Homo sapiens: one gene and its partners. The protein of the gene in region 1 interacts with the protein of each later gene in a biochemical or structural test. Each region holds a gene or a part of one and is shown in the gene's direction. Other genes may lie near its edges.

What was found.
Region 2: the proteins of LILRB2 (region 1) and ANGPTL2 form a complex in vitro, tested with the Homo sapiens proteins (one study listed by IntAct).
Region 3: the proteins of LILRB2 (region 1) and ANGPTL5 form a complex in vitro, tested with the Homo sapiens proteins (one study listed by IntAct).

What each region holds. Positions count from the first base shown.
Region 1 is NC_000019.10:54,273,276-54,278,254, reverse strand, and holds the end of LILRB2 (leukocyte immunoglobulin-like receptor subfamily B member 2 isoform 2 precursor), read left to right. Parts: intron 1-315; coding exon 316-366; intron 367-654; coding exon of another isoform or gene 655-657; coding exon 658-705; coding exon of another isoform or gene 706-713; exon of another isoform or gene 714-719; intron 720-1,275; exon of another isoform or gene 1,276-1,325; coding exon 1,326-1,448; intron 1,449-1,798; coding exon 1,799-1,874; intron 1,875-1,953; coding exon 1,954-1,991; intron 1,992-2,251; coding exon 2,252-2,304; intron 2,305-3,425; coding exon 3,426-3,572; 3' UTR 3,573-4,443; downstream 4,444-4,979. UniProt on the Homo sapiens protein: Receptor for class I MHC antigens. Recognizes a broad spectrum of HLA-A, HLA-B, HLA-C, HLA-G and HLA-F alleles. Involved in the down-regulation of the immune response and the development of tolerance.
Region 2 is NC_000009.12:127,112,636-127,119,635, reverse strand, and holds part of ANGPTL2 (angiopoietin-related protein 2 precursor), read left to right. Parts: intron 1-7,000. UniProt on the Homo sapiens protein: Induces sprouting in endothelial cells through an autocrine and paracrine action.
Region 3 is NC_000011.10:101,899,498-101,906,677, reverse strand, and holds part of ANGPTL5 (angiopoietin-related protein 5 precursor), read left to right. Parts: intron 1-830; coding exon 831-934; intron 935-1,770; coding exon 1,771-1,864; intron 1,865-3,956; coding exon 3,957-4,057; intron 4,058-6,127; coding exon 6,128-6,248; intron 6,249-7,180.

The sequences.
Region 1 (4,979 bases):
GGCCTTGACCCTGTCCTCTCTGAGCTCAAAGGCTCAGCTCAGGCCCTGCCCCCCAGGAGAGCTCTGGGCTGGGATGGAGTGAGCGGGGGTCTGAGCGGGGCTCAGCCAGTGGGAGACTCACCCTCAGAGGGAAGGAGGACAACAGGCCCTCCCAGGCCTGCGCACACTCAGCGGCATCGCCAGCATCATGGACAGGAGAGGCGGGTGGAGGGAGGGGCCTGGGGAGGCCACAGGGCCCATGTAGAGAAATTTGGTTTGAGGTGGAGACTTCAGGAAAGCCCCAGCTCCTCACCCTCCTCTCATTCTTTCACCCAGGACCCTCCATGGGTTCCAGCCCCCCACCCACCGGTCCCATCTCCACACCTGGTGAGTCCCTGAGGCCTCTGGCTCGAAGGGAGCGCAGCGACCCCCAGGGCAGCTTTGAGTGTCCAGGAGGATCCCATTCCCTTCAGGGACTCAATCAAGGGCTTCTGTCCAGGGAGCTGGGCAGAGCCAGAGGAGGGGCCACAGGGTCCCCAGGGCTCTGAGGCTGGGCTGGTGAGGGGTGGGGGGTCAAGGCAGAGAGAAATGTTGGGGCCCAGCCTGGGGGAGGAGCAGCCGGGCTGATGTGGGGAGCAGGGCAGCCCCAGCCCTCACCTCCCCGTCCTGACCCAGCAGGCCCTGAGGACCAGCCCCTCACCCCCACTGGGTCGGATCCCCAAAGTGGTGAGTGAGGGGCTCTGAGTGGGAGGTGGGCGGGGTCCCGGGGAGGCAGGGGTGGGTTCTGTCCTAGGTTCAGGCTCCTCTGGAGGTGGTGATGTAGACAGGCTCCTCCCCTGCCTGGGCCTCAGTTTCTCCAAGTGTAAAGGAGAGAGGCCTGCAGGTGGGAAAGTTCCTTTCAGCTCTCACTCCCAGCTGTGACCTCCTGGGAGAGGAGGCCCCTCAGGGAAGACTCCAAGACTCGATTCCGCGGGGGCCTGTCCCGTCCCACCTGCAGCAGAGACGGTGACCTGGGGCAGGGGAGGGGAGCAGAGTCGTGGTTCAGGACGGTAAGGCTCTTTCCCTGCAGCTCCGGGGCTCGGCTCTGGTGCAGGAACAAGGGCTGCAGGTCAGACTCCCAGGCTCCCTTCCCAGCTCTGCCGCTTCCTGGCTGGGGGCCCGGGGCAGGCGATTCCCCTCTCTGAGCGTCAGTTTTTCATCTGTAGAGTGGGTGGGGTGGATGTTTGTGTGCTGCACGACTGTTGTGGGGGTTGGAGGTGGTGAACAGAAGGTCCAGCAGTCACCTGCACACAGTAGGCGCTCATTTCAATGACATCACCCCCATCCCTGACATCATCGTGCTCAAGGTCTGGGAAGGCACCTGGGGGTTGTGATCGGCATCTTGGTGGCCGTCGTCCTACTGCTCCTCCTCCTCCTCCTCCTCTTCCTCATCCTCCGACATCGACGTCAGGGCAAACACTGGACATCGAGTGAGTAGGGAAGGGGAAACCCTGTGGGCCGACCGAGGGTGGGCTCAGGGCACAGCCAAAGAGAATCCAAACCACTGGGCAAATGCAGCTTTGAGAAACTGTTCCAGCATTTCTCACCAGGTGAATGGAGAAAGCACTTAACGTCAGTCCCATCTACAAATATAAAGTGTCCTCCGGGCTCAGTCCCATCTACAAATGTAAAGTGTCCTTCGGACTCTGTCCATCTCATGAGGCATTTGGAACATGGAGGCAGGAGTGTTTTTAGGTTTCCTTCCTTACCTTCGAGCTGTGTGTGCAGGGCAGGGGGCTCCAATGTTCCCAGGGCTGAGGCTCTGTCCTTCTTCCCCCAGCCCAGAGAAAGGCTGATTTCCAACATCCTGCAGGGGCTGTGGGGCCAGAGCCCACAGACAGAGGCCTGCAGTGGAGGTAATTCTGCCCGAAGACCCCAGACTCCCACCTGCTCGTGGCCCATACACTGCCCCTAAAGCTCCCATTCCTCCCCCAGGTCCAGCCCAGCTGCCGACGCCCAGGAAGAAAACCTCTGTGAGTGAGAGGAAGAGGTGACCAGCCAGGAGGGAGATAGGGGCCCCGAAGTTTCCGTAGCAATGGGGAAAGGGGCACCGGCTGGAAAGGGTCTGGGGCTCAGGGTGAGATCATCTCACCCCACACTGTGGGACCTCAGGGACATTGCAGCCCCTCCCTGCATCTCAGTAGCCCCATCTGGGAGCAGGGCAGGGGCTGGCAGGACTCAGAGGTCCCAGGGAACCTTCCCAAGAGACGAACCCCTTGCTCTGCCCCAGCAGATGCTGCCGTGAAGGACACACAGCCTGAAGATGGGGTGGAGATGGACACTCGGGTGAGACCCCGCCCCTGTCCCAGGCACCAAAGGCCTCCTGGTGCCAGATCTAATCCAGCAGGACTTCTCTGTCCTCCTTCCCCCGGCTCTCAGCATCGTCACGGTGGACCCCTCCTTGTCCAGCACGCTGCCTCCCGCCTGCTGTGACCTCACTCTCTCCTGCTGTCCTGGGACCTCGTGGGCCTCCTCCCGGGTCCCCTTCCTGCTCCTCATCCTCTGTTTGGCCGTCTGGTTGTTAGAGCGCTCCCCAGGCCTCTGGAGGATGAGGAATAAATGAACCACCCCGGTCCCCTGGGCTCCCCTTCATTCATTCAACCAGTGAGTGTTCCCAGGGAGCTCACTGTGGATCAGGCTCCCCATGGGAGCTGCAGACACAGCAGGGAGCAAAGCCGCCCCCGCCTCCTGAGCTCACCTCATGGTGGGAGACAAAATGCAAATAAATGCGCCATGTCCAGGAGTGCAACGTGCTTAAAGGAACATACACCAGGGAAAGGGCAGAGAGTGTGGGGCAGTGGGGCCAGTCTGAATGGAAGGGGAGGGCTGTCTGCTCAGCTGTCATCTGAGAAGCCTGGACAGAGTGGGGCACACGATCCTCTAATGGACGAGCCCCTGCAGGCAGAGGAAACAGCCGTGCAAAGGCCCCGAGGCAGCAGCGAGCTCTTGCGGGAAGGCCCATGAGGCTGCAGCCAAATGGGCAAGGTCAAAGTGAGGAGCAGAGGCCAGAACCACAGGAAGGGAGCGGCCAGACCCTCCACGGCCTTAGGGCGTCCCTGAGATTCCATCGGGAAAGGGATGTAATCGGATCACCCCGGGAACAGTGAGGAAAATTGACTCCAGGAGGTCAGGGGGACTCAAGGACACCCCCCACCACTGTCTCTCTCCAGCAGAGCCCACATGATGAAGACCCCCAGGCAGTGACATATGCCCCGGTGAAACACTCCAGACCTAGGAGAGAAATGGCCTCTCCTCCCTCCCCACTGTCCGGGGAATTCCTGGACACAAAGGACAGACAGGCAGAAGAGGACAGACAGATGGACACTGAGAGAGTCCTTTCCTCTCCAGGCCCCCAGGCCTCCCCCACCCCCACCACGTTCCTTACCTCTCACTCTCCCCCGCTGCAGGCTGCTGCATCTGAAGCCCCCCAGGATGTGACCTACGCCCAGCTGCACAGCTTGACCCTCAGACGGAAGGCAACTGAGCCTCCTCCATCCCAGGAAAGGGAACCTCCAGCTGAGCCCAGCATCTACGCCACCCTGGCCATCCACTAGCCCGGAGGGTACGCAGACTCCACACTCAGTAGAAGGAGACTCAGGACTGCTGAAGGCACGGGAGCTGCCCCCAGTGGACACCAATGAACCCCAGTCAGCCTGGACCCCTAACAAAGACCATGAGGAGATGCTGGGAACTTTGGGACTCACTTGATTCTGCAGTCGAAATAACTAATATCCCTACATTTTTTAATTAAAGCAACAGACTTCTCAATAATCAATGAGTTAACCGAGAAAACTAAAATCAGAAGTAAGAATGTGCTTTAAACTGAATCACAATATAAATATTACACATCACACAATGAAATTGAAAAAGTACAAACCACAAATGAAAAAAGTAGAAACGAAAAAAAAAAACTAGGAAATGAATGACGTTGGCTTTCGTATAAGGAATTTAGAAAAAGAATAACCAATTATTCCAAATGAAGGTGTAAGAAAGGGAATAAGAAGAAGAAGAGTTGCTCATGAGGAAAAACCAAAACTTGAAAATTCAACAAAGCCAATGAAGCTCATTCTTGAAAATATTAATTACAGTCATAAATCCTAACTACATTGAGCAAGAGAAAGAAAGAGCAGGCACGCATTTCCATATGGGAGTGAGCCAGCAGACAGCCCAGCAGATCCTACACACATTTTCACAAACTAACCCCAGAACAGGCTGCAAACCTATACCAATATACTAGAAAATGCAGATTAAATGGATGAAATATTCAAAACTGGAGTTTACATAATGAACGTAAGAGTAATCAGAGAATCTGACTCATTTTAAATGTGTGTGTATGTGTGTGTATATATATGTGTGTGTGTGTGTGTGTGTGTGTGTGTGAAAAACATTGACTGTAATAAAAATGTTCCCATCGTATCAACTCCAGTTCAGGAAGTTTCACTGGTGATTTCTTACAAATATTGACGCACTAATGAAACACACAAACACACCCAGAGCATCACAAATGTTTCTTGAGAATAGAAAAAGAGGCAATGTGCCCGGGTGCGGTGGCTCACGCCTGTAATCTCAACACCTAGGGAGGCAGAGGCCACAGATTACTTGAGGCCGGGAGTTCAAGACCAGCATGGCCAACAAGGCAAAACCCCATCTCTACTAAAAATACAAAAATTAGCTGGACATGGTGGCGCACGCTGCAATCCCAGCTACTTGGGAGGCAGAGGCAGGAGGATCACTTGAATGAACCCGGGAGGTGGAGGTTGAAGTGAGCAAAAACAAACCCCCTACAATTCAGCCTAGGATATGTTTATTAAATTTACATTTGTCTTTTTGCTTAAGATTGCTTTGGTATTCATCCTCTTTTTGGTTCCATATGAATTTTAGGATTTTTTTCTAATTCTGTGAAAAAAATGATGTTGATATTTTGATGGGAATTGCATTGAACCTAAATATTGCTTTGGGAA
Region 2 (7,000 bases), on another chromosome or scaffold:
AATAAGGCATATACATTATGTCATTTCATCCTCACCACAACCCTAGAAGGTAGGTTCTAGTTTTAGCATCCCATTTTACAGATGGGAAAACTAAGTCTCGAGAGGTTAACTTGCCCAAAGTCACACAGTTATGTGATTATGTGGGACTGGAACCCAGCTCTGTCTGGCTCCAAAGCCCCTGACTTCCTCTCACTTCAGTGCCTTGTTTAGACACCTCAACTTCTCTTATCCTGACTGTCACTGGGTCCCTGCCCAGTGTCGTCAGTAGCCACATCTGCTTTGGTTGCTGTCCTATCGAATGCTGCACCAACCCCTCTGAAAACCATGGACTTACTCAACTTTAGCGCATCCCTTGCTCTTCATGGAAGCCTACTTCTGAGGCAAAATAGGCATGACTGTTACTCTTAGAGATGAGCCTCAGCACAGTTATGAGGGTACCTGTTATGTGGTAATATGGTCAGTGACAAGAGGAACTGAGCTTCGAAACCAGGTTGGCTGACTTGTTCCACGTGCCTGGGTGCTCTGCGATACTGTCTCACCACATCAGCACCAGGAAACTCTGTCCCCAGCTCAGTGGGGGCAGAGCCTCAGGGAAACACTGGTCCATGTGACTAAGATACTATTGATGCGCTTTCTACATCCGTACTTGGAGGCTCCTTTAGGACTGAAGAATCAGAGCTCAGGTCCTCATCACCCACACTGGGCCACACACGAGCAATTTCTGAGAAAACATCAGGGAGATGGCAATGGGTAGCTACAATAGAACAAACATAACAGACAGCAGCCCTGCCAAAGCAGGTACATTCAGCAACTGGCCTCTCTGAATCACAGCCCATTTAATCTGGAATGGTCTCAACTGACAGCAGGCAGATGGGGGAGGGGCTCTGCTTCATAGAGCCCACAGCCCAGCAGGACTGGGCAGACAGTAAATAATCACACAAACACACAACTGTGTGAAAGCTGTAAAGAGGTGGCACAAGGAGCTAAGAGGGTCCTCAAGGTGGGTGGTGCTGTCCCCGTCTTACAGAAGTGGAAACTGGGGGTCAGGGTGCAGCACCTCTCCCACGGTCTCTCCATGCATGGGCCAAAAAGCAAAGATTGAAACCCAGACCTGTGCTGGTTCCACCCCAGCCTGCTGCCATCCTGGACAACCACACTGTGGAAATCTCAAGAAAGAATCAATTCATTGAATAGCATTTCTTTTTTGTGAATTTATATAAAACACCCCAAATAGAAGAGTTATTCAGCCACAGGCAGCTTGGAGTTTGTGGTGATACACTGGTCACGTCAGAAGCCTCATTCTGGGGGTAGTTTCTATGACAAAACTGTGTTCTTTCACATGGACTGTGAGCCATATGACTGAGTTCATAACAGTGTTGGGGGTTACAACGTTACGATGGCCTGTCACATGTACACATCAATCACAAGCCACATTTTGGTCCCAGGAATGTTAAAATGTTGGGTGTGGCAGGAGAATCCCTTGAACCCGGGAGGCGGAGGTTGCAGTGAGCTGAGATCGCGCCACTGCACTCCAGTCTGGTGATAGAGCAAGACTCCATCTCAAAAATAAAAAATAAAATGTTGGGTGTGGGGAGCCAGGCCTCTCACAACTGAACTATTGTGTCAGTCCATTCTCTGCTGAAATCAGCCTGTCTGGGGCCAGCAGCCCCAGAGCCTCAGCAACCCCCTGCTGCCTAGTTGTCCAGACAGGCAGTACCAAGACCACCAAGGAAAAGCCCAGAATGGACTCTGTTCTTATCTTCAAGAGATGCCTGAGGACCTGCCCAGCTCCAAGAATCCTTAAAGTCCTGCCTGAGGTGGTCCCACTCCAACCTCCATGAGGGAAAGGCTGTGTCTGTCTCAGTTACTGCCGAATCTCTAATACCCACTCAGGGCCAGGTAGAAAAGATATCTGTGGAATGAATGAATCAATGAAGCAAGCCTCAGGCCCAGGCTCTCAAGCAAACAAGCTTCTCTACCCCAGGGTGCCACACCATTCCTCTCTCTGTTGTCCAGCCAAGGGCTTTTCTGAGGCTAGGTCAGGTGCCCCACAGCCCCCCAAGTTTCCCTATCTGGGCATGGATCTCTTTGCATTACAAATGCCTAGTCTCTGTCTCACCTACTACCGTGGACCCCTTGAGGGTAAGGACCTCACCCACCTTGTTCCTGTTCTACCTCCAGCCGCTGGCACAGTGGCTGGAAGAGGAGAACTTATTGGGAAATACATTATACAAATGAAGTTCTTGAATTCCTATTTAGTAACCTAGGTGCCATCCTGGATACTCAGTAGTCAGAGGAGGAATCTGCCCTGGCCCTGCTTTTTAAAGAAGCTGTAGTCAGGAGGGAGATAACCAGATGACTGCAATCTGAGTCTTGGGTGTTGAGTTGGAAGCAGCCACAGCTGCACTTGTGAGCTGAAGGAGGGAGGGAAGACCTCACTGAATGGATGGCTTCATGGTGAGGTCAACTTAGGAAGACAGGCAGGCATCAGCCAGGACAGTGGGGGAAGGTACTCGAGGCAGGAAGCACAGCACATGCAAAGGCAGGGAGGCATGACAACACAAGGTCTGTTTTTAAGCAGGACGCTGACATGATCAGATGTGGGTGTCAGACAGACAGCCCTGGAGCTGCATGCAGTGTAGACTGCAGGGGAGAGAGCACCCAAAGGCAGGGAGGCCAATTAGGATTGTGTGGGTAAGAAACCTGGCCCTGGGTTAGACAAATCTGTTACTGGGCCCAGCTCCACCACTTGGTAGCACTGTGCCCCTGGACAAGTGGCTTCATCCCTTACCTTTGTTTGCTCATCTGTGAAATGAGGATAGTCATAGCCCCTGCCTCAAAGAGCTACCGGGATCAGTGAGGCAGACACAAACATTGGTTGTCCCAGTGTTTGAGGAACAAGTCCATCCAAACAGCCAAGGTGGCCCTGGTGCCAACTTCTCAGCCTGGTCCAGAAAAGCAGCCCCAGGCAAGGCCTGGACTTCCCAAGAAAGTCACCCTGGGGCAGTGCTGTCCACCCAGCCCTTGACTTCTCCCTCTTGTCTAGGGCTTTCCCAGTTGTAGGGCTCCAGAGCACACTAGGCACTGCCGGAAATGCAGCAGCCAACTCAGAAGCTGGACTCTGAAATGGCTTCTGCAGACTCTTCCCCGCCTCTGCTCTGTTGGCCAAGGCTCCTGGCACAGAGGCCTCAGTGCACAGACTTTGGGGGAATCTCAAAATGGTTCCCAAATAACGCACTGTGAAAAAGTAACAGCAGTGTCCTTGTCCCCCGGAAAAGGCAACCAGCTCCCCCACTCCCTAACCACATCCCCCTCTACCCTATGATCTCATGGTGTGACCACAACCCGCCTCCTCCATGAACTCTTCCTGGAGCCAGCAATTCACCAATGGCAGGAGCACAAGAGCCCAAAGCATCAGGCAGATTCGAACCCCCAGTGCTACTCCTCCAGGCAAATCTGTCTTACCCTGCTTCTCTGACTCATGGCTCCCATCACCCATGACAGGTAGTAGCAATGCACAATGGCTAGCTGCATGGGAAGGCTAAATGGGTGGGTGATGGAGGGCTGGATGGATGGATAAATGGTTCATTCAATGGTCTTATGAGAGCTGAACTAGAAGGGTTTGGGAATTGACTCCAGACTCCCCAGGTGCCTTCTGGTGGGGAATCATTCATAGCATCCTCAGCCAGGAGGGGAGGGCAGCTGGAGATCTGGATATGCCCTCCCTGGCCTCCGGGCTGATGGTGAATCATCCAGGACAAACAATGCACAGTCCTTTCACCAGGTTCTCCAAGGTGAGGGTGTCACTGCTCATCCCAGATGCCCATTTTGGGGTCTTACCACTTGCGTGATCAAGCAGCTCTTTCCAACATCCAACAAAACACACCCTTGTGCTGACCTGAAAGCTATTTCTACTTATTCAGTCAACAGTGAGTAACATGCAAGCTGCATCTCAGCCATTAAACAAACAAGCACCTTTTATTCATACTGGTTGAAGAGACAATCTTGATGCAAGGCAGGGTTTGGACCTAGCAGTTGACAGCTAAATCCCAGTTGTGATATTTACTTCCAAGTGATCTTGAACAAGCGACCTAACCTTTCTAGACTTGGGTTTCCTCTACTGCCAAATGCAGATATAATACCTTTCTCTTAGGTAATGGGATCATATAGTTTGTTGCTCAGTCAGGACAATATTGAGAGTGAAAAGGGGGTGCTATTAATAACTACATAAGACCGCAACCAGCATGGCGAAACCCTGTCTCTACTAAAAATACAAAAATTAGCCAGGTGTGGTGACAGGCACCTGTAATCCTAGCTGCTCAGGAGGTTGAGGCAGGAGAACTGCTTGAAAGCGGGAGGCAGAGGTTGCAGTGAGCTGAGATGGTGCCATTGCACTCCAGCCTGGGTGACAAGAGCGAAACTCCATCTCAAAATAATAATAATAATAATAATAATTACGTAAGACAACAGACCTCAACTGGGGCCAACCAGGATGTATGGTCCCCTACTCATAGAGCTATTAAGAGCCAATGAGATAGAGTACAGCTGGGCACCCAAATTCACAACAAACGACAGCCATTATTAGCAATACTACTGGTCACCTGATCAGCTGGGCCTTTTCCTTCATCTGGATCCCTCCCACATCTTGGATTACCAACTGGTTTGGATACTTCCCTACCAGCACACCATACATTTCAACAGCTTAGTAGGAACACCTGCTAGCTAATGTTGATGTTTTCATCTGTCTTCTGTCCTGATGATAGTTTCACAAACTTGATTCATGCTCAGGTCCACCAGACTCACTCAAGCACAGCTCAGGCTTCTAGCTTCCCAGAACCCCGACGTCAGGGGCCAGCTGGCAGTTCCAGATTCCCTGACTGCCTTGGCAGAGGCCCGCTTCTCAGGCCTCCTGCAGTGCTGGGATGCCTCTTATGGCGTGGACCCATTATTGGCCTTCATCTGTGATCACAGACCAATGGGCAGTGCTGACCAGAGGACGGGTGGTGAGGGGGTGGTTCTGTAAGTCCTCCAGGCAGGACTACAACCTGGACTGATGATGAATCAACTCCTGAGATCCGGATTTAATTTGGAGGCTTCCCTGGGATCTGCAGGCCTAATGACGGCAAGAGCACTCCTGTCGTCGTCCTGCCTAGAGGGTCAGAGAACAACCTCTTTTGGGTTTCCAGTCACTTTGGCACTTTGGTTTCTCTTTATTCACAGTATGGTATCTTTGGGGGTTATTTTGGGATCTGTTAGTGGCTCTACTACTTATTAATTTGTGATTTGGGCAAATGACTCACGATCCTCAAATCTCAATAGTTTCCTCAACTGCAAATAGGGATAAATGTCAGCTTTGCTGTTAGCCTTAAAAGTATCTTTGTGGGCATCAGAAAATTGCTACAATATAAATATAAAAAACATAAAGACTATGAATGTGAGTTGTGTCCCCTAGAGTAGCACAGTGCTCAAGTGGGGCCACCATGCATGGCGGCCCTCAAATAACAGGCCGCCTTCCGAGGGCTGTTGGGAAGATTAAGTGAGATAATGTATATAAAGTGCTTGAGCCATAGTGACAATTTATTGTTGTTATTCTTTTAATTGCTGGAACTTTTCTCATTTCTAACCTTTGGGGTGAACTCAAAAGAGGATCCCAGGCCGGCAGCTTCTGCTGCAGGGCAGAACACACAGCTCCATCTGATGAAAATGACAGCTCTTCCCACAAAGTGGCCCCTTGCTTGGGCTGTGGCACCACAGTGGTGAGAGGGATGCGGACACATGATGTGTGGCCCCACCACATCAGGCCAAGCGGGGACATTCAGAGGCAGCCCACCGGAGACTGGGTGGGACCCAAGCCCTGGAGAGGCTGCCTCCCAGTGTACAAAGGCTGTCACGTGGCACAGTCACACCAGCCTCACTTGTGGGGAGGGAAAACCCATGCGTGATGGAAACTCCTCACAATACAATGTGGAAAAGCAATTTTAAGAATCGTTTTTATTTTAATTCTGAAGCCAAGGAAAACAGTTGGATTTGCTTTTCTTTGTTGGACACAGGAAAAAAGTGAGGAGCATCACTTTGATTGGAGTTGAGTTCTTCTTCAGTCCTAAGATGGCTGGAATGCCGGGGTGGGGGTGGGGGGTGTTACTTCTCTTGAGATACAATGAGTTGAATAAATATCAAGAGAGCAAAAGTAAACAAACTTATTACTGCCCATTAAGAGCCGCCAAACTGGCAAAAAACTGCTGGGGGGAGGGGAGGAATTGGGGTTGGAGTCTTGGACTCCAAGGAAAATAAATGACTCTGAGGCTCAAAGAGAAGCCCAAGGAGCATGGCCCTTGGTATCAGGTTGACCCAAGTCCTAGGCTCAGTCACCTTTGGCTGTTATCTGCCGTGTGTTCCTGGGCAAATCACTGAGCCTGTTTGGGTTGCAATGTCTCCGTTGATAAAACAGGGGTGAATAACAACCCACCGGATTACCTGGGACAATGTATGTCAGGCGCCCAGCACAGTGCCCTGTTCCTTCCCTTCCTTCCTGTAACCCAATCAGTTCTGAGTCACCCCCACTAAGCCTAGGCCCCACAGAGGTGTAACAGTAGGACTCAGAATCAATGTAGTTACAAGAGGTCCCACTGCTCGCAACATGACCTCAAAGTCAGCTACCCCTACACCTTTTTGAGCTTCAGTTTCCTCAGCCTAGAAATGGGCATAACACTAGTAAGTCACTCTGAGTGTTGGAATGATTAGATGAGAGAATGTTGATGTGAAGGGTCTGGAAGCCCTAAAGCCCTGTGCAAGCATTAGTCAAGGAGATGGTGTGAGTGCTTGGCACACTGCCTGGCCCACACCCAGCATCCTCACTGTTGTTGGTTTTGTTTCAGCTTTGTTGTTCTTGCTATCGTATTGCTAACACATTATTCCAATCTCCCGCTTCTGATGCACTTCCATGCTGCTCACCTAGTGTGCAAGGTGGGTTGGATCATCCCATTTCACAGAAAAGACTCAG
Region 3 (7,180 bases), on another chromosome or scaffold:
AACATACGTAATAGTGTGTGGGCCCTTTTGTTATAGGGGGCAACATTATTACTATCTTGGGTAAAACTCACATAGGGTCTGAGAAATATAGGTAGTGAATGTTTATTTCCTAATTTTGGTGGTATGTTATTAGAAATGTCTTTGGTGTAAGAAATATACACTGAAATAGCATGACGGTACATCATGGCAACATGGTCTCAAAGGCATTAGGAAAAAGTTATTTGTACTGTTATCGCAACTTCGCTATAAGAAATTTTCTCTTAAGATAAAAACATTTTTAAAAGGAAAATGTATAGTAAATGTTTAGTCAGAAACCAAATAACCAAAACCTTTGACTAACATTTATTATGTGTATGTATATGTATGTGCTAGCAATTTAATTGTGTAAATATAGTATTAATAGAAAAATTAAAACAAAGATGTACTTTTTAAAATTAACTTGCCTGGTATAAAACTGTCACCACTAACTTTCTTTTACAGTAAGAATTGATGAATCCTATAACTCCTGCCTCTATATATCTCATCTTATAAAGTGAGAATTTATAATCAGAACACTGTCTCTTAATGATAACAGATTAATTATTCTGGGTAATCTATATTAGTAGGAAGCATAGTTTCATTAAGAAGTATTGAGACAATCATTTCTGGGGTTAATCCTGAGTTAAACAAAAGATATACTAACTAAAATATGTAATTCTGAGTATTAAGATAAATTGAGATAGTATTGAGTTAACATACATATCCAAAATCAGGTAAAATTCACTATTTTTCACTGTAATTGTTTTCTGTAACAATATAATATTTAACAGCCACTTTTTATTATGGTTAAGGAAATTTGCAAAATTCTATTGTTTCCTACACAAGAAGTACCAAAAAACTACTAAGGAATATGATGGATGAGCAACAAGCTTCCTTGGATTATTTATCTAATCAGGTATAGATGTTTTAGTATTGTGTTGTTATTGCATGTACACGTTGATGTATAGTTAGCTGGAGGTATAATCTTTTTTTAAAATGCATTCATGTTCAGACATCTATTTAGCGCCTACCATGTTAGAGGCACCATAGTAAACTTTAGGCAAACAAAAAGCAGTAAAAAAATCGAACTTAATTCAAGGGGTATGGTCTAGTGGAGCATTAAAATGTGTTGACAAAAATGTGGTTGCTAGAATGGCACAAAAGAGAACTCTCAGATACAAAAAGCTTCCCAGAGGAGAAAGTCTGTTAACAGTCATGAAGGATGAATAAATGTTTTAAAAATCATAAAGGTTGGGTAAGGCGAAGAGGACATTCCATTCTGGGGAAACTTCTTGGTGTTGGTACAGGGTGGAGTGGCTGGTGAGGTTGAGTATTTAAGGAAAACTGACTATAGGAATAGGCAAGAACGAAGTCATACCACACCAAGGAGCCACTGTAGTGTTTAAGCAAGGAAATGCCACAATCTGATTAACTTGTGTGGCCAATGACTTGAGGAAGAGCCAAAGGAGGAGGTAAGAAACTACAGCAATGGTTTGGACAAGGTATGAAGGGCAGATGTGCAAGAGCAGCCAAATGCAGAAATCGGGGCAGATAAAATCAACGTTAAGGAGGTAGATACTACGAAATTTAATGATTGCTATTTAGCTTTGCCTTTATTCTTTGTTAAAGCAGTAAGAAATCAATCTAGAAAAATGGGCACCATTACGTATTTCAGAGCTGGGTTTATGAGAGGCTTAGAGATGGCAATTTCTTCAAATATAAATTTACTTAAATGTGTATGCATGTGTTTAGGTTAACGAGCTCATGAATAGAGTTCTCCTTTTGACTACAGAAGTTTTTAGAAAACAGCTGGATCCTTTTCCTCACAGACCTGTTCAGTCACATGGTGAGAACTTTGGTATTTCAGCCTTTTCATGTTTGTCTTTTATTGCTTAAAATTTTCCTGGACAGGTCGATCCATTTAAAAGTTTTATTTAAAAACTACAGCTCACCGTTCTCTAACAGACTGGAGGGCTAATACCTGCTATTAAGCAAATTTCACCATAGACAACGTGTACTTTCTTAAAATGGGAAACTTTTTCAACCATGTGAAAGCCATGGCTGTATAAAGATATCCTGAAGCTGTTGAAAATAACATAGCTTTCTATAGCTTTGTTCTGGACTCCCAGTTTATATCTTATTAATAATTCATCTTCAGATAGAAGAAAAGAAAGTTTCAAAGTTCCTCCCACCTGTAAAAAATGTTTTTGACATGTTTGAAATGTTTCAAATTGGGGCATAAAATTTGAAAAGAAAAAGAAATGTAAGACAAGAATAAACTGAAAGTTAGCACTTTTTATACTAAAATACAGCATATTAATTCCTAGAGGTTTGGACTTCTAAGAAAAATACCCTATAAATCTTATAAATATGAATTTATCCCCAAATGTTTAAAGCAAATAAATATTATTGAGGGCCTAGAACATGATCTTTATGTCCTTCTTCGAAAAAGAAGACAATAAACAGTGCCTAAAAATCTTCTATGTGATAGGTAGGAAGACAGGCACTTTCTCACATTATTTTGTTATTAAAATTATTTTATTATATCTCATAACTGCCCCAAAGCAGGCATAATGTGGTAGTCAGGAGCATGGACTCTGATGTCAGACTCCTTGGTTTCAAATTTCTTGCTTGCTGCTCTCTTGATATGTTTTCTCATCAGTAAACTGATAGTACCTACCTCTTACAGTTGATGTGAGGATTAAGTGAATAAATACAGGAAAGTCTCTTAAAATATTGCCCGAATCAAATGTTTATCACAAGGAAATAAAAAAAATGCCCGAATCACAGGCAGAACAATATAAGGGCTTGCTTGCTATGATCATCATCATCAGATAAGAAATATCCAGCCCAGAAAAATCGAAATAATCTGTTCACATTAATTTGAAAGGTAATGACATAGCAGACACTCCAACCCAGATCGGTCCTTCAGCGTGAACTTCTTTCATGTCTCTGAGCATAAAGTCATTATAAGAATATCTCTTAACAATTAAGGATACAGGCAACAACAAATCTATGTCTCCCAGAGACGAAGGGGAAAACAAGTGACTTTTTATAGCTAACTTTTTGTAGATGGCATTTTCTTCATTATTTGGGTGTGCTGGGCACTATGGTAAAGGCTTTATGTAATACCTTACTACGTAAATAGTTAGGATAACACTATGAAGTAAAGTGTTAGGAGTAGAACTAGGATGTTAAGATGGGCATTTGGATAATGGACGCTCTAAGGGTTGAATTTATTTCACTTATAAAAGATGCTACAGAGTAGAGTATCTTCCAGAAAATGTAATATCCATATCCACATACACGTGTTTACAATCCTGGGGAGATGAGTGCTTTGGAGAAGGTGATTATGGGGTGCTATAATTCTAACTGTTGTTAACAGAGTAGGCTCTAACATCAGGCATAATTTCTTGGGGAAGAAAGTGATTTTCCCCTTTCTTCCTTTGGCTACTTGTATTAGTGGTCCCAAACACATCAGTCTCTGAAGTTGGGAATAGAATAGTGAAATATGTGTCTGTAGTGGTTAATCTACTTATTCCTTTTGGTTTTCTCCTCCCTATTCATGTAGATTTCCTTTACACATTACATTCTCTAAGATAAACCTAAATTTCTGAAATGGCATTATTTATTGGTAAAGAGAATGTGTAATTATAAAATATGTTTAATAAGTGTTGATCCCAAATGAAACTTTTAAATAGTATAGGAAACTAATCACTAACAGTGACATTATAAGTGAAGGCTTATTGCAGCATAAATTCTTTAATCCCTTATATTTTCTTTTTATTTCTAAAATTGTGACCATTTTTCATTTTGAAGAAGTTAAAATAATATAATAATGAAAATTATGATAATAGCACTATCAATTCTCTATAGTAAAATGATTGCCTTAAATGTACATTTGAAAATATCCCAATTAAATAATTTTGCTTTTCTAGGTTTAGATTGCACTGATATTAAGGATACCATTGGCTCTGTCACCAAAACACCGAGTGGTTTATACATAATTCACCCAGAAGGATCTAGCTACCCATTTGAGGTATTTCCCGTATTTGAAGTTTTCCCGTATTATGTGGGCTAAGATAAACATCCAACCAATTTAATTTATGTTAAAATTTAAATTGTTTTAATATTTAATTTTTCCTCAAAAAATTTTAAATAAATTAGGTAAAGTTCTACTTTCAAAATTTTGGTTTTTTAGAATTCTAATGCCCAAAACATGAATTAATAAAAGAGCTAGAGTCTGTCTTTCACTTTTCTATTTGAGTTTCCATGGTTATACTCTTTAAAGTAAATCCATGTGATGCAAAAGCTTGTATTATCCTCGTAACAGGCAGAACTATAGCAGGCAGAACTATGCAATATAAATACTTGCTTGCTTTAATTAGCCTGTGGATATTGGAAAATAATGGTGTGCTTTGCCTTGGAGCTTACTAAAAATACTTTTGACTTCCCTTCCTGTATATGGTTATAATTTCTTCTGATGATAGATGATTTTATGTGATTGTATGAGAAATTAATAATTAAAAAACCTTTCAGTGGGGTACAAGGCAGACTGAAAAGCTGATTCATTCTGAAATTGATAAAATAAATTACTCTTATGTCTATTCTTAGTAGTTCTCTGCAAGGATATCTAGTAGAAATTTCTACTAGAGACTATGCATATTGATGGAATATATATGTGTGTGTGTATATATACACACGCACACACACATACAGTTATATATATTATATATATATTTTCCTGGGCACTTCTTTGTGCAGAAGAAAGTTTATGATACTTATACCTTATTGATAGTCTTTATTGGATAATAAAGTCACTTTTTTTCTAAGTAAATACTACCGGTTTCTCTTCTTAGAGTTACTACCATTATTTTATTTGGAATCTATTGACAAGATGTCAAAAAATTGGAAATTAGGTGGGAAATAATTTTAAAATTACCTAAGTTACTTCACCTACAGATTCAAAACTGGATCTGAACAGATGTGGAAAAGGAAGGCTTCTAATTTTATGAAGAGTGGGATGCATAATCACCTCTTTTGTGGGAAAGTGCTGGTTCCTTAACTTCCTCCACACTGCCTTTTCTCTGTCTCTATGCGGGAAGTTTCTGAGGGAGAATTTTGCTCTGATTTCTTCCCTATATCGCTTCTATGGGTGCCCTACAGAGGTCCTTTTAGGGGCATTTTACACAGCATCAACAGATGTGTCTATGAGCACCTGCTGAGTGGGCACAGATCATGCCTTTCTCTGAAAATGCCAGTCTGAAAACAGGCCTTCCAGGTTTGTGGGAGAAAAGAGCAAAGACAAGCACGTGAAATATTTAGCCGTGCACACACACCCCCCCACCCCCAGTGTTTTAATTCAAAATTTAGTTTATAGAGAAATACATTGCTCTGCCACATCAGAGCAATACTGTTATACAAACTGAAGAATATTTATAAAGTTGAGTAATAAGAGGATAACTTTAAAATGCTGCAAATACGGCCAGGCGCGGTGGCTCACGCCTGTAATCTCAGCACTCTGGGAGGCGGAGGCGGGAGGATCACGAGGTCAGGAGATCGAGACCATCCTGGCTAACACAGCGAAACCCCGTCTCTACTAAAACATACAAAAATACAAAAGAAAAAAAAAAAAAAAAAAAAAGCCGGGGGTGCTAGCGGGCGCCTGTAGTCCCAGCTACTCGGGAGGCTGAGGCGGGAGAATGGCGTGAACCCGGGAGGCGGAGCTTGCAGTGAGCCGGGATCGCGCCACTGCACTCCAGCCTGGGCGACAGAGGGAGATTCTGTCTCAAAAAAAAAGGGGGGAAAAAAAAGCTGCAAATACATATTTTTAAAAATGATTGTTATAAGGACTGTGATTAAGTTAATTACAAATTTGTTTGATAATAAACAGTATTATTTAGGTTAATTACAGGTTTGCTTTATAATAAACAGTATTATTTCTAGAAATATAAAAAACATCTGAATAAATTAATGGCATATGATTGCATTGAAAACTCAGTGGCAGTACCGTCTCTTTTTCTAAGCCTAAGGATGAAGCATGAGTGTTATATTATCAAATAATGAAAATAATAGTGTATTATTTTGGTCTTCTCTGTGCTTATTTTAGGTAATGTGTGACATGGATTACAGAGGAGGTGGACGGACTGTGATACAGAAAAGAATTGATGGGATAATTGATTTCCAGAGGTTGTGGTGTGATTATCTGGATGGATTTGGAGATCTTCTAGGTTAATTTTTTTGTATTTCTACTCTACATTGTTTACTCTTTTTGATATTATATCTATAGAGCCTCTATTGGTCAGATCTGTAGTAAAAATAGCAAATGCTTGCAAATATCAAAATATAACTTAAATCACCCTCTTTTCATATGCCAGATTATTTAAAATAAGTAGGTCTTCAGTGGAGATCTGGAAATCTTTATTTGTAGATATCTGGTGAAATGTGATTTGAGTGAAAATTCTAGATTGGATATGTATTAAGTATCTATTATGCACCCAGCAGAATTCTGGCAGGTGCTCACCAACGGTTTGCAGAACGAAAAACTGAATGGCAGCGTTGTCCTAGATCTTAAAATTCTTGAGAGGTGTGTTGTATCTATACAAGCCAATGAAATGGCGAATTGAGGTATGTGTCTGTGCAAACCCAAATTATTTAAACTGAGCATATTATTAAAATGTCAGTAAACATCATTATGCTCAAAATTTGAAAATTATAACCTCAGGTCAATGTAAAATCTGTTTACATTATTGCCACATGGCACCATCACATTTGCTGGTAAACAGAAACACCAATATTTCTGAACTTTGCAGAATTTTACATTAATTGGAACTTCTGCCAGTGAGTTTACTAATTTTTATGCTATTTTAACAGTTACTGTTTTTATAATTGTAAATCTTTAATCTCTCATAATAATGTCATCCAAGGATTTGGTAAGTGGTGGTGTCAGTCCTAGTGCTAAAAATGCTACTGAATGCCAGTGATTTTAGAAGCAATTTGGCTTATACCCAGGTAACTGCCATGCTCTGGAGTATAGTGAATTTACTTGCATTTTCTCAGCATTACTTCTGATTTTTCCATTGAGTGCTTCTTCTTGAATTAGGTAGTTATAGATCCATATGCAGGCTTTGCCATCTTCCTTACTTCAAATTTATTTCTATGG